Linked DNA regions of Homo sapiens: region 1 is linked to region 2. The links come from fine-mapping of genetic effects on gene expression. A gene starts in region 2. The other region holds a variant in brackets. All regions are shown on one strand. Distances are from middle to middle. Region 1 overlaps LOC105374378 (a long non-coding RNA gene). Region 2 holds the start of SUPT7L (SPT7 like, STAGA complex subunit gamma).

Evidence for each region. PIP is the estimated chance that this variant, and not a neighbour inherited with it, causes the effect.
Region 1: its variant is the best candidate, but not a certain one, in a credible set for the expression of SUPT7L in whole blood (TOPMed, PIP 0.60).

What each region holds. Positions count from the first base shown.
Region 1 is chr2:27,725,965-27,731,455 of GRCh38, forward strand. All of the region lies in intron 2 of LOC105374378 (a long non-coding RNA gene), which reads left to right. Among named protein-coding and RNA genes, the nearest start is that of LINC01460, 13 kb to the left of the region's middle. The variant T/C (reference allele first, on the strand shown) is at 2,827.
Region 2 is chr2:27,661,277-27,666,503 of GRCh38, forward strand. It overlaps SUPT7L (SPT7 like, STAGA complex subunit gamma), which reads right to left and starts at 2,338. Exons shown (of 6, transcript NM_014860.3): 1 at 2,053-2,338; 2 at 903-1,005; 3 at 1-112. The coding sequence starts at 916. It overlaps SLC4A1AP (solute carrier family 4 member 1 adaptor protein), which reads left to right and starts at 2,613. Exons shown (of 14, transcript NM_018158.3): 1 at 2,613-3,301; 2 at 3,824-4,019. The coding sequence starts at 2,639.

The sequences.
Region 1 (5,491 bases), 65 kb after region 2:
TATAGATACAATATGGTATCACTCAAGCATAAACCAAAACCAAAACAAAACCTTGAAATAATAATATATATTTATATATGTTTATAACATATTTCTAAATATATGAAAATGCATAGAAAAGGTCTAGATTCACTAAATTACCTTGGTTATCTCTGGTGAAGCTAAGATTAGGTGTTGAGATTGAAGGAGACTGTCAGGTTTAAACTTTTTCAGTGATAACGTATTCAGGTATAATTTATGTATTTAAAATTAATTTTAAAACTTTTAAAGGAAAAAGCTATGGAAGGAAAGGCATTCTGATTTGTTCAACCCAGACCATATGACTCTTCCTAGACCAATCACTGTGGCCAAGGGGCTCCTAGGGTTCAGTGACTGGCCCAACCTGGGTTTCACACTCATTCCTGTGAACACTGGAGCAATACACAATAATTGGCACAATAATTGGCAGCTCCTTCCATAATTACAGCTGAATTGGTGAAGGAGGATTTCCCCCAAAGAAGGGAGGTGCTGTTCTGGGCAGACAAAACAATAAGTCTTCTCGATAGTGGGCTTTATCATCTTCATGGGTTTAAGTATGTGTCATCCAAGGCTGAAATACTTCGTTCAATACAGTTCTGTTACAATATATAGGATAAAAATTTGTTCTGCGCCAGGTGCGATGGCTCATGCTTGCAATCCCAGCAATTTGGGAGGCTGAGGTGGGTGGATCATTTAAGGCCAGGAGTTTGAGACCAGCCTAGCCAACATGGCGAACCCCATCTCTACTAAAAAATACAAAAAAATTAGCTGTGTGTGGTGGCGCATGGCTATAATCCCAGCTACTTGGGTGGCTGAGGCACGAAAATCACTTGAACCTGGGAAGTAGAGGTTGCAGTGAGCTGAGATTGCACCACTGTACTCCAGCCTAGGTGACAGAGTGAGACTCTACCTCAAAGAAAAAAAAAAAAAGAATTTGTTCTGCTCATTGCTATATCCCTAGAACCCAGGAAAGTTCTGGGTATATAGTAGATGCTCAGTGTAATAGACACTAGTCAAATGGCAACAGCACTACTATAGCCTATGATTTTTTTGTTTTTGTTTTTGTTTTTGTTTTTTGAGATGGAGTCTCGCTCTGTTGCCCAGGCTGGAGTGCGATGGCACAATCTCAGCTCACTGCCACCTCAGCTTCCTGGGTTCAAGTGATTCTCCTGCCTCAGCCTCCCGAGTAGCTGGGATTACAGGCATGCCCCACCATGCCTGGCTAATTTTTGTATTTTTAGTAGAGACAAGGTTTCGCCATGTTGGCCAGGCTGGTCTGGAACTCCTGACCTCAGGTGATCTGCCTGCCTCTGCCTCCCAAAGTGCTAGGACTACAGGCGTGAGCCACCGCACCCGGCTGCCTATGGAAATGCCTTATTCTGGAAACTATGACTATGAAGAGAACTATGACTCCTCCCTCAATGCTCTCAGCAGAGGCAGAGGGGAGAAAGGAAGAGGAAGTCAGACTGACAGCTCCGTTTTCCTCCCAAGGCCAATGTTCAAGTCAGATCAGGGAGTGACCATGACGCACGCCTGGGACAGCTTGACAATGATCTGGCCATGGCATGGGGTTGGGCAGGAGGAGTTGGCCCAGTTACTTTTGATTAAGTGGGGCTTCCTTCTGTGTGTTACAGCCTCATAGGTCGCTGTGGGGATGGGGCCACGACGGAAGAGAAGGTGGTAAAAAGGGCGAGTTGCCTAAGGTGAGTGACCCTTGGGTGGGTCTCCTAACTCATCTGAATCCTTTCCTCTCTGCAAAGTGAGGATATTATTATTATTATTATCATTATTATTATTTTGAGACAGAGTCTTGCTCTGTTGCACAGGCTGGAGTGCAGTGGCATGATCTCAGCTCACTGCAGCCTCTGCTTCCTGGGTTCAAGCAATTCTCCTGCCTCAGCCTCCTGAGTAGCTGGGAGGCGTATGCCACCATGCCTGGCTAATTTTTGTATTTTTAATAGAGATGTGGTTTTGCCATGTTGTCCAGGCTGGTCTCGAACTCCTGAACTCAGGTGATCTGCCTACGGCCTCCCAAAGTGGAGGATATTATTTTTAAAAAAATCTATTCCCCAGTGACCATGTCTCTCTACTATCCATTATGTCGTTGTTGTGGAAGCATCAGTTGAAACCCAGAGAGAGCTAATTTTTCTAAGGGAGCCCACCGTAGAGAAGGAAGAGCAGAATCCCAAGGCCTGAGCATTGGGGGTTCCCACAGCAGGGAAGGAAGGGCTTGTAAAGGGCACAGTAAAGGAAGAAGGGGTGACCCGAGGGGAAGAACAACAGGGAACTTGAGGCCAGGAAGGCCAAGGATGCAGAGGGTTCCAGGAAGTGGGCACTGGCAGTGTTAACACAAGTGCTATTGGATGGAGGCCTCTGGGGCTCTGGAAAGAGAATGGTTCCAGAAAACAGATGAGGCTGGAAGCCAGACTGAAAAGTGCAAAGGGGGAAACAGCTTCCAGTTCTCCCTTGAGAAATGAGAGGAGGCATTTCCCCCATGCTTGACTTCCCCGACTGTATCTAGCCTGCTGAGGTGAGGCCTGGGGAGACTAACTGGGAATCCCTACAGTCTCTCATCCTCCTCCCCTGTACTGGCCTCTGCCTGGGGGAAAGCTGGTCTGCCCCAGTTCTCCAGGCAGAGTGAGCTCAGTCATCAACCCCAGGCCTGGCCCCAGCCCTTGCTACCCCTCTCCAAGGGAATGGATTCTGCTGGGTCGTGTACCCACCCCATCCCCCTACTCCTTCCAATGGGCTGAGGTCCTACCTCAAAGGGCCTGACCAGCTGAAACCATTTTTCCCAAGCTTGGCCTT[T/C]CCAGGGAACTACATGAGCTTCCTTTAGCCAGGCCTGTACCTGCCCAGGGGCCTCTGGGTCTTGGACCATGCAATTATCCTCCCTGGGTGTCTCGCCTGCCATACAGATGCCCTCAGCCTCTGTGCCTCCTCTGCTATTGAGTTCTCAGAATCCCTTTCATCTGAGCACATTTCCTTTGTAACAGAAGGGGAGAAACAGAATGGTCTTAAGACAGCGCAAACATCAAAACATTATGCTTGTGTATATGAATTTCTACATGTTTTATATTTTGGGGTTGAGACTACTATAGATACACAATTGTGCATGTGTGTGTGTGAGTGTGTGTGTGTGTATCCTAATCATCAAATCACAAGCGTTTTCCCAGATCATAAAAAAACTGGTGAAGGCATTTTAAGGACAAGAGAGACCAGTGTAGAAACCAGTGCATATGTGTAGGCCAAGAAGAAGGTATGAGTGGACAGGAAAAGCTCAAAGGTACTAGAGGGTGACAGAGTTCAGCCAAAAGTCCAAGTGGGGGCAGCGCCTGAATGAAGGGTGTAGGGGCCCATTAGGGCTGGAGGTATCCTTGGCAGGCAGACAGGCTGACCCCTGCTTTTACTTTCACTTCCATACCAGTTCCAGTGACCCCTGGAGACCAGGCTACATTCTTCAAGTTCGATGGATTTTCTGGTTGGAGAAGCTTGAGAATTTTAATTGCTGCAACCAAACCAATTTAGTTGCTGAACCTGGGGCTGGGTTTGGCTTAGCCGAGTCTTCTATAAAGAACAAAGGGGAATGAGAGGTGTGCACGCCTGGTAGTGACTAGAAACCCAAACCAGACAGCCCCTGGACTGAGCAGATTCAGGTTACATTCTTAGACACCTCTCCTGTTCTCTCCAAACCCTGACCCCTTACTAGCCCTCTCGCTGTCCCACTTCACTCCCACAGCTGAGACCCTGCGCCAATATCCATCTCCGCCCTTTGCTGTGCTCATGACCCAGCATTTGATGAGTGTCATTCATTCATTCAACAAACATTGAGCCTCTACATCATTCATTCAACAAACATTGAGGCTCTACAGTGTGCCAGAACTATGCCTCGCTGGTGTTAAAGGCATATCCTTGGCCTTGAGAAACTTCCATCAGCCCAGCACCCAGCTCAAGGGAGCCCAGAGACCACCTAAACTTTTGTCTGGATAATAGATCCCTCTGTGAACTGATGACAGTTTTGCACACCTCTGCAGAAAAATATACACATGCACAATTGTATATTTGCATACACTTGAGGGGTGGCAGCAATCCCCTGAAGCCCATCGATGATTTAAGGATCTGTGTACCCCAAGTTACAAACACTTGATTTCATTTAACCCTCTCATATTACAGATAAGGAAACTCAGGTCTACAGAGGGAAATGACTTGTCGAAGGTCATGCTGTGGGTGAGGAGCTGAGCTAGTCCTAGAAGCCAGGACCCCTGGCTCCCCAGATGCTGCTCCACCAGGCCTCCCTGTGAGGGGCTGAGCTAGCCCTAGAAGCCAGGACCCCTGGCTCCCCAGACGCTGCTCCACCAGGCCTCCCTGCACCCTTGTCATCTGGGAAAACCTGGCGAGGGAGCTTGTGTGCCCAGGGCCAGTTTCCTTGTCAGCTGCCAAGCCTAGGACTGCCAAGCCTAGTCCCTTCTCTACCACTCCCTGGTTTCTCCGGGACAGGGGACAGTGGTCAGGAGCTTTCTGAACACTTGCTGTGACCTTGACCATTCCAACCAGTTCCCCCCAGACATCAAGGGAAATGTTCTAGAGGAAACAGGATGTGTTTTCCTGCAAAATCATTTGTCTCATAAGGTGATTTGCATACTGGTGGGGACACAAATGTCATTCCCTGCCCATTTCCTCCCTAGAGAAAAGGGTTTCCATCACAGCTTTCTCCTCAAGAGAGAAGGCAGCTGTATGGGCCCGGTCCCAGCCCTGAGGATGCCTTCCTGACAGTGGGGAGGAGGGACGGGATGTTAGTTAGGGTCTCCCCAGAAGTGGTTGGTAAGCAGGCTCCTTTCTTGACCCCTCCCCAAGTCTCAGGGTTTGGCTGGAAGCTCCCCAGCTCCAGCTCTGACAAACAACCCGCTCCTGCAAACCAGGGATCTAGGCAGCCCACCTTGCTCTTAAACTTCCTTGGGGTTAAATTACAGAAGATTCAGCTGCTAGAAGAGATAGTTGAGGTGATGGTAGATGACAAATAACAACAAATACTTAGTGCTTACTGTGTGCCAGACATTGCTGTAAGCATGTTACATGCACTGTAAATTAATTTAATCCTTACAGCAACCCAGAGAGATTGGTTCTATTATTTTTCCCACCGTTTGCAGGAGGAATCAGGGTTCAGAGAGGTTAAGTAACTTGCCCAAGGTCACACAGCTGAACAGCTGATAGTTGCACAGACAGGGTTTGAACTCAGCCGATCTGGCTCCAAAGTCTGGGAATCTAAATACTGTGTTATGAGAGGAAGCACTGGAAGGTTCGTGATCTGTTGTAACCCTTGAAGACTGCACAGTACTCAGAAATATTGGCATGCCATTTAAGGCCCCTTAGGATCTGGTCCTAGCTACGCTGCTATTCCATCCTGCCTCCTGCTATGATCCACTTACTGAAACAGGCCATAAACATGCCCCAGCTGGTCTGCACAGTGTTTCCTCTG
Region 2 (5,227 bases):
GGGTTGGTGCAGGGGTGGGTCATGGACTTCCACCAGACGGAACTCCCGTGGGAGCAAATCGAAGGAACTTCTGTTGGTCTGGCTTGATGATATTGGTATCTCTCCCCAGTATCTCAACATTTTGGAATAAGAAGAGAAGAGGTCTCAGGATAAATGTAGACAATAACCTAAAAGTAATGTGTTTAAATCCTGGCAACTTTAGATTATAGGCTTCTGTAGTGAAAAATACGAGGTCTAGCCAGTTATTTATGTAAAAAGTAGGCTATTTGTGACCACTTAGAAAAATGTCAGTGTCAGCAAAACTGTAGGACCAAAGGTGTTCTCCCTAAATAAATTAAGAGAAATGTAACTGTTAGATGCTGGTTATTGTCATACTATGACAATTCCTACTACACTGAACCACAGGGTAGAATTTGGGTCATTAGTGGACCAATAGCTACAACAGCATCTGGAGCTCTAGTATCCCTATTTCCCATCTCACTCACTAACTCATTACCAGAACTACCATCACGCTCAATCCTGAACAATAAGCAAGGCATGATAAGGTATCTTGATACATCTGTGCTGGATCAATAGGAGAAAAACTAGTAGGGTTAAAGATAATAAGAAGTGGTTCTTACTCTGTGTGTCTTAGGCATGATCCTGGTGGAAAAATTTATGAACCATTAATCTAAATGGCATTATGCTTTCAACTTTTGACATATAGAACGTGAGAGATTTCTGCTGCCTTCTAACTGGTATCCCTTCCTCCAATCTCTCTTTGTATGTCATCTATTCTCTACACTGCTGCTAGACTTACTCTTTTTAAAACTTAAATCAAATGGCTTCCCATTGCCTATTGGAAAAAGTCAGAATTCCTTGGCTTACCATTCAACAAAATTCACAATCTGGTTTCAACTCACCTTTGCAGATTCATTGTCCATATGTCTCTTCAAGTTCAACAAACATTTATCAAATGCCAGGCATTCTGTGTCGGTCAAAGACTGATAATGTGAGATCCTTGCCCTGAAGTGAGGAAGAGAAACAGAAGCAGAATATTTCAATATGAAACATGGTAAGTACTGTTCTAGAGGTATATGGACCTGGGGTACTGGAAGCACAAAGGAGGAGCTTCCTGGGTGAAATGACTACCTTTGTTCTAACAACATTATACTACTCAGTTTCTTGAGAATGCTGTACATTTCCACAATTGACACTTTCAGCTGTGAACTCTGCCAGAAATGCTCTGCCAACCTTGCACATCCCTGGCAGACTCATATTCATTTTTAAGTACAGCATAAGTCCCCACCGTCCGTCACTTCACCAGTGCATCTCCCTTTCTCTATTCTCACAGTGCTTTGCAAGTCTATGTCACAGCAGTTATCCTTGGATTTTAATTAGTACTTATCGCAATAGATTTTTTCTGCCCGTCTATTTCTTATGGCTGTGGTCTTGTTACAGGGCCAGGCACACAGAAATATCTGGCATTTGTTGAATGTTTACTATATGCCAGACTTCACCTTTTTTGTTTGTTTCTTTTTTGAGACAGGGTTTCACTCTGTAGCCCAGGCTGGAGTGCAGTGGTGCAGTCATGGTTCACTGCAGCCTCAACCTCCTGGGACCAAGCAATCCTCCCACCTCAGCCTCTGGAGTAGCTGGGACTACAGGCGCGCACCATCAAACCTGGATTTTTTCTTTTTTTTTTTTTTTTTTGGCGAGACAGGGTCTCGCCATGTTGCCCAGCCTCCTCTGGAACTCCTGGGCTCAAGCAATCCTCCCGCCTCAGCCTCCCAAAATGTTGGGATTACAGGCATGAGCCACCGGTCTGGCTGGCCTTTATTGTTTGATTCAATTCTTCCAACAACCCTATGAGGCTAATAATCTTATCCCCATTTTTCAGAGTGAGGGCTGAGGCCTAGTGTCTTGCCCAATGTCACAAATGGCGAGGTCAAAAATCGACAGTCTCCAGAGTCTGCTCTCTTAACCACTTAACTATTCTGCCTTAATAATTTCAGAAAAAAAATAAATGAATGAACGAAATAACAAAAAAGTCGCCCTCTTCCCTTACTTTACCGAAAGGAGCACGAAGAACAGGCACGGAGCCCAAGGAATGCCCAAGTCCCTCCAGGGGTTTCCTCGGTCACGGTCCGCCGGCGCAGGCGCCAATCACAGGGTCCTGAGGTCGCCTGACGTTCAGGGCAGCCGGAAGACGGGGAGGTCTGGACCTGAACCGAGACAAGGAGGTACCACACTATTCACTGCTGCGTCGCAGAGCGGGCTGGGCGGCTGTCTGGACCTCGAGAGGCCTGAGGCAAGGATCGCGTCAGACCCCGAAAGCTGGTTTGTTGATTAGTGATCTAAGACCGCCGGAAGCGCTTCTTCTCAATCAAGCTATGCAACAGGAAGTCATTACGATCCCGTTGTAACCTCTAAATATGTCCCCGTTCTGCACAGCATCCCGATAACCGTTTTGTTTTTCTCATATTATGACCTTCTCATGTTAGCACCACTTCGCAACGCTCCAGGTCGTGAAGGAGCAACTTCACCATCGCCGCCTACAGACGCCACTGGGAGCTTGGGAGAGTGGGACGTGGACAGGAACGTAAAGACCGAAGGGTGGGTTTCGAAGGAGCGGATTTCGAAGTTGCACCGGTTGAGGATGGCTGACATTCTCTCTCAGTCAGAGACCCTGGCGTCGCAAGACCTCAGTGGGGACTTCAAGAAGCCAGCTCTGCCGGTGTCCCCAGCGGCGCGGAGTAAGGCCCCGGCCAGCAGTTCTTCAAACCCTGAGGAGGTACAGAAGGAAGGGCCCACTGCGTTGCAGGACTCCAATTCTGGGGAGCCCGACATCCCTCCTCCTCAGCCGGACTGCGGTGATTTTAGGAGTCTACAGGAGGAGCAGTCGCGCCCCCCGACAGCGGTTTCTTCCCCTGGCGGTCCAGCCCGGGCTCCCCCCTACCAAGAGCCTCCATGGGGTGGCCCTGCCACAGCCCCCTACAGCTTAGAGACCCTGAAGGGCGGCACTATCCTTGGCACCCGTAGCTTGAAAGGGACGAGTTACTGCCTTTTCGGGAGGCTGTCTGGCTGCGACGTGTGCCTGGAGCACCCTTCGGTGTCTCGGTACCACGCAGTGCTGCAGCACAGGGCGTCCGGCCCTGACGGAGAATGCGACAGCAACGGGCCGGGCTTCTACCTCTACGATCTGGGAAGCACCCATGGCACTTTTCTCAACAAAACTCGCATCCCACCTCGCACCTACTGTCGAGTCCACGTTGGGCATGTTGTTCGCTTTGGAGGCAGCACCCGGCTCTTTATCCTGCAGGTAGGTAGAAAAACCTAGAATTGAAATTTCGGGTTCATTGGACTGCGTTCTTGTGCTTCTTAAGCTTTGGATGAGGAAGAAGAATCTCCCACTCAGCGATTACGAAAGTGAAGGAATCAAGTCTGGCCTATCATCTTCAGACGGCTGTACACATTGCTATATTTCTGAAAGTCATGTTCACAATCCCGAACTCTAAAATAACTTGTTTGGCCAGGCGCGGTGGCTCGCGCCTGTAATCCCAACACTTTGGGAGGCCCAGGCGGGAGGATCGCTTTAGCCCAGGAGTTTGAGAGGAGGCTGGGCAACATGGCAAGACCCTGTCTCTTAAAAAAAAAAAAAAAAATTAGCCAGGCATCATGGTCCCAGCTGCTCAGGAGGCTGAGGTGGGAGGATCACCTGAGCCCAGGAGGTCAAGGCTGCAGTGAGGTGTATTACAGCCACTGCACTCCAGTCCAGCCTAGGCGACAGAGCAAGACCCTGTCTCTAAATAAATAAATAACCTTTTTTTCCTTGGTTCATCAGGGACCAGAGGAAGACCGAGAGGCAGAATCCGAGTTAACAGTAACACAGTTGAAGGAATTGCGCAAGCAGCAGCAAATATTGTTGGAGAAGAAGATGCTAGGAGAAGACTCAGATGAAGAAGAGGAAATGGATACCTCTGAAAGGAAGATAAATGCTGGTAGCCAAGATGATGAGATGGGTTGCACCTGGGGAATGGGTAAGAAATTAAAATTGCTGCCGGAGGTTAATATTTTAAGTTCATTACAAGTGGTACCCTTAAATGTTTTTTTAAATCATACAGCTTTTCATGGCTCCTTGAGATAGATAGGGCAAACACAATTTGCACATGAGGTAACCAAAACCCAGAGAGATTCACTGACTTTACTGTTGTAAAGAAATTGACTTATAGGCACTTTGGATTTTTTAAAAATTTATTTTTAATGCACTCTCTTGTTCAAAACTTGTCCTAAGCATAAAATTATTATTTTTACAATTCTAAAATTTTATATTTATTAAGTACTGACCTTGTGCTATGTGATTATCATTGGAGGGGATGGAACTCTATTCAATCAAATAAATGGGATGTTATTCAATATAGGATATTCTCTTGAATTTTTTGTACTTTGTGAAGATATCCTGAAATGTGGAATATCTAATCAGATAAAGCTGGTCCCTTAGCCAAAATAATAAACTTTCTTTAACACCAGATATTTTAGAAAATGGATATTCAGGAGATGGGAGTATAAAAAGGTAGAAGATGGCATTAATATATAGTTGGGAAGATAGGAAAAATTATGAAATTACTTGTGCTAAGTGCCAAACAAAAGCTAGAAACCATAAGTATGCTAGAGTGAAAGTTTGGAGAAGAGAGAACAGTCACTGGGGACTTAGACCTGTGTTGTCTGATATGGTAGCCACTAGCCACATGTGGTTACTGAGCACTTGCAGTGTGGCTAGTTGCAATTGATGTGTGCTGTAAATGCAAAATACACACTGAATTTCAAAGACTTAGTCTGAAAAAAAGAATGTAAAATATCTCTTTCATGATATTTTTATATTGATGACATGTTGAAATGACAATAATTTTACCTGTTTCCTTTTAATTTTTTAATGTGGCTAATAGAAAATTTAAGATGACGCATACAGCTGTCATTATATTTCTGTTGGACAGCACTGACTTAGATCTTTGGGAAACTTAATTTTTTTTATTTTAGTAGAGATGGGGTTTCACCATATTGGCCAGGCTGGTCTTGAACTCCTGACCTTGTGATCCACCCCCCACCCCCCCCCCCCACCCCGCCCCCCGGCCTCCCAAAGTGTAGAGATTACAGGCGTGAGCGATCGCACTCCACAGGGAAGCTTTATGAGCATAAGGATTTTGAGCTGGAACTTGAAGGAAAGGAAAAGCCTTATGAAGCTGAGTAT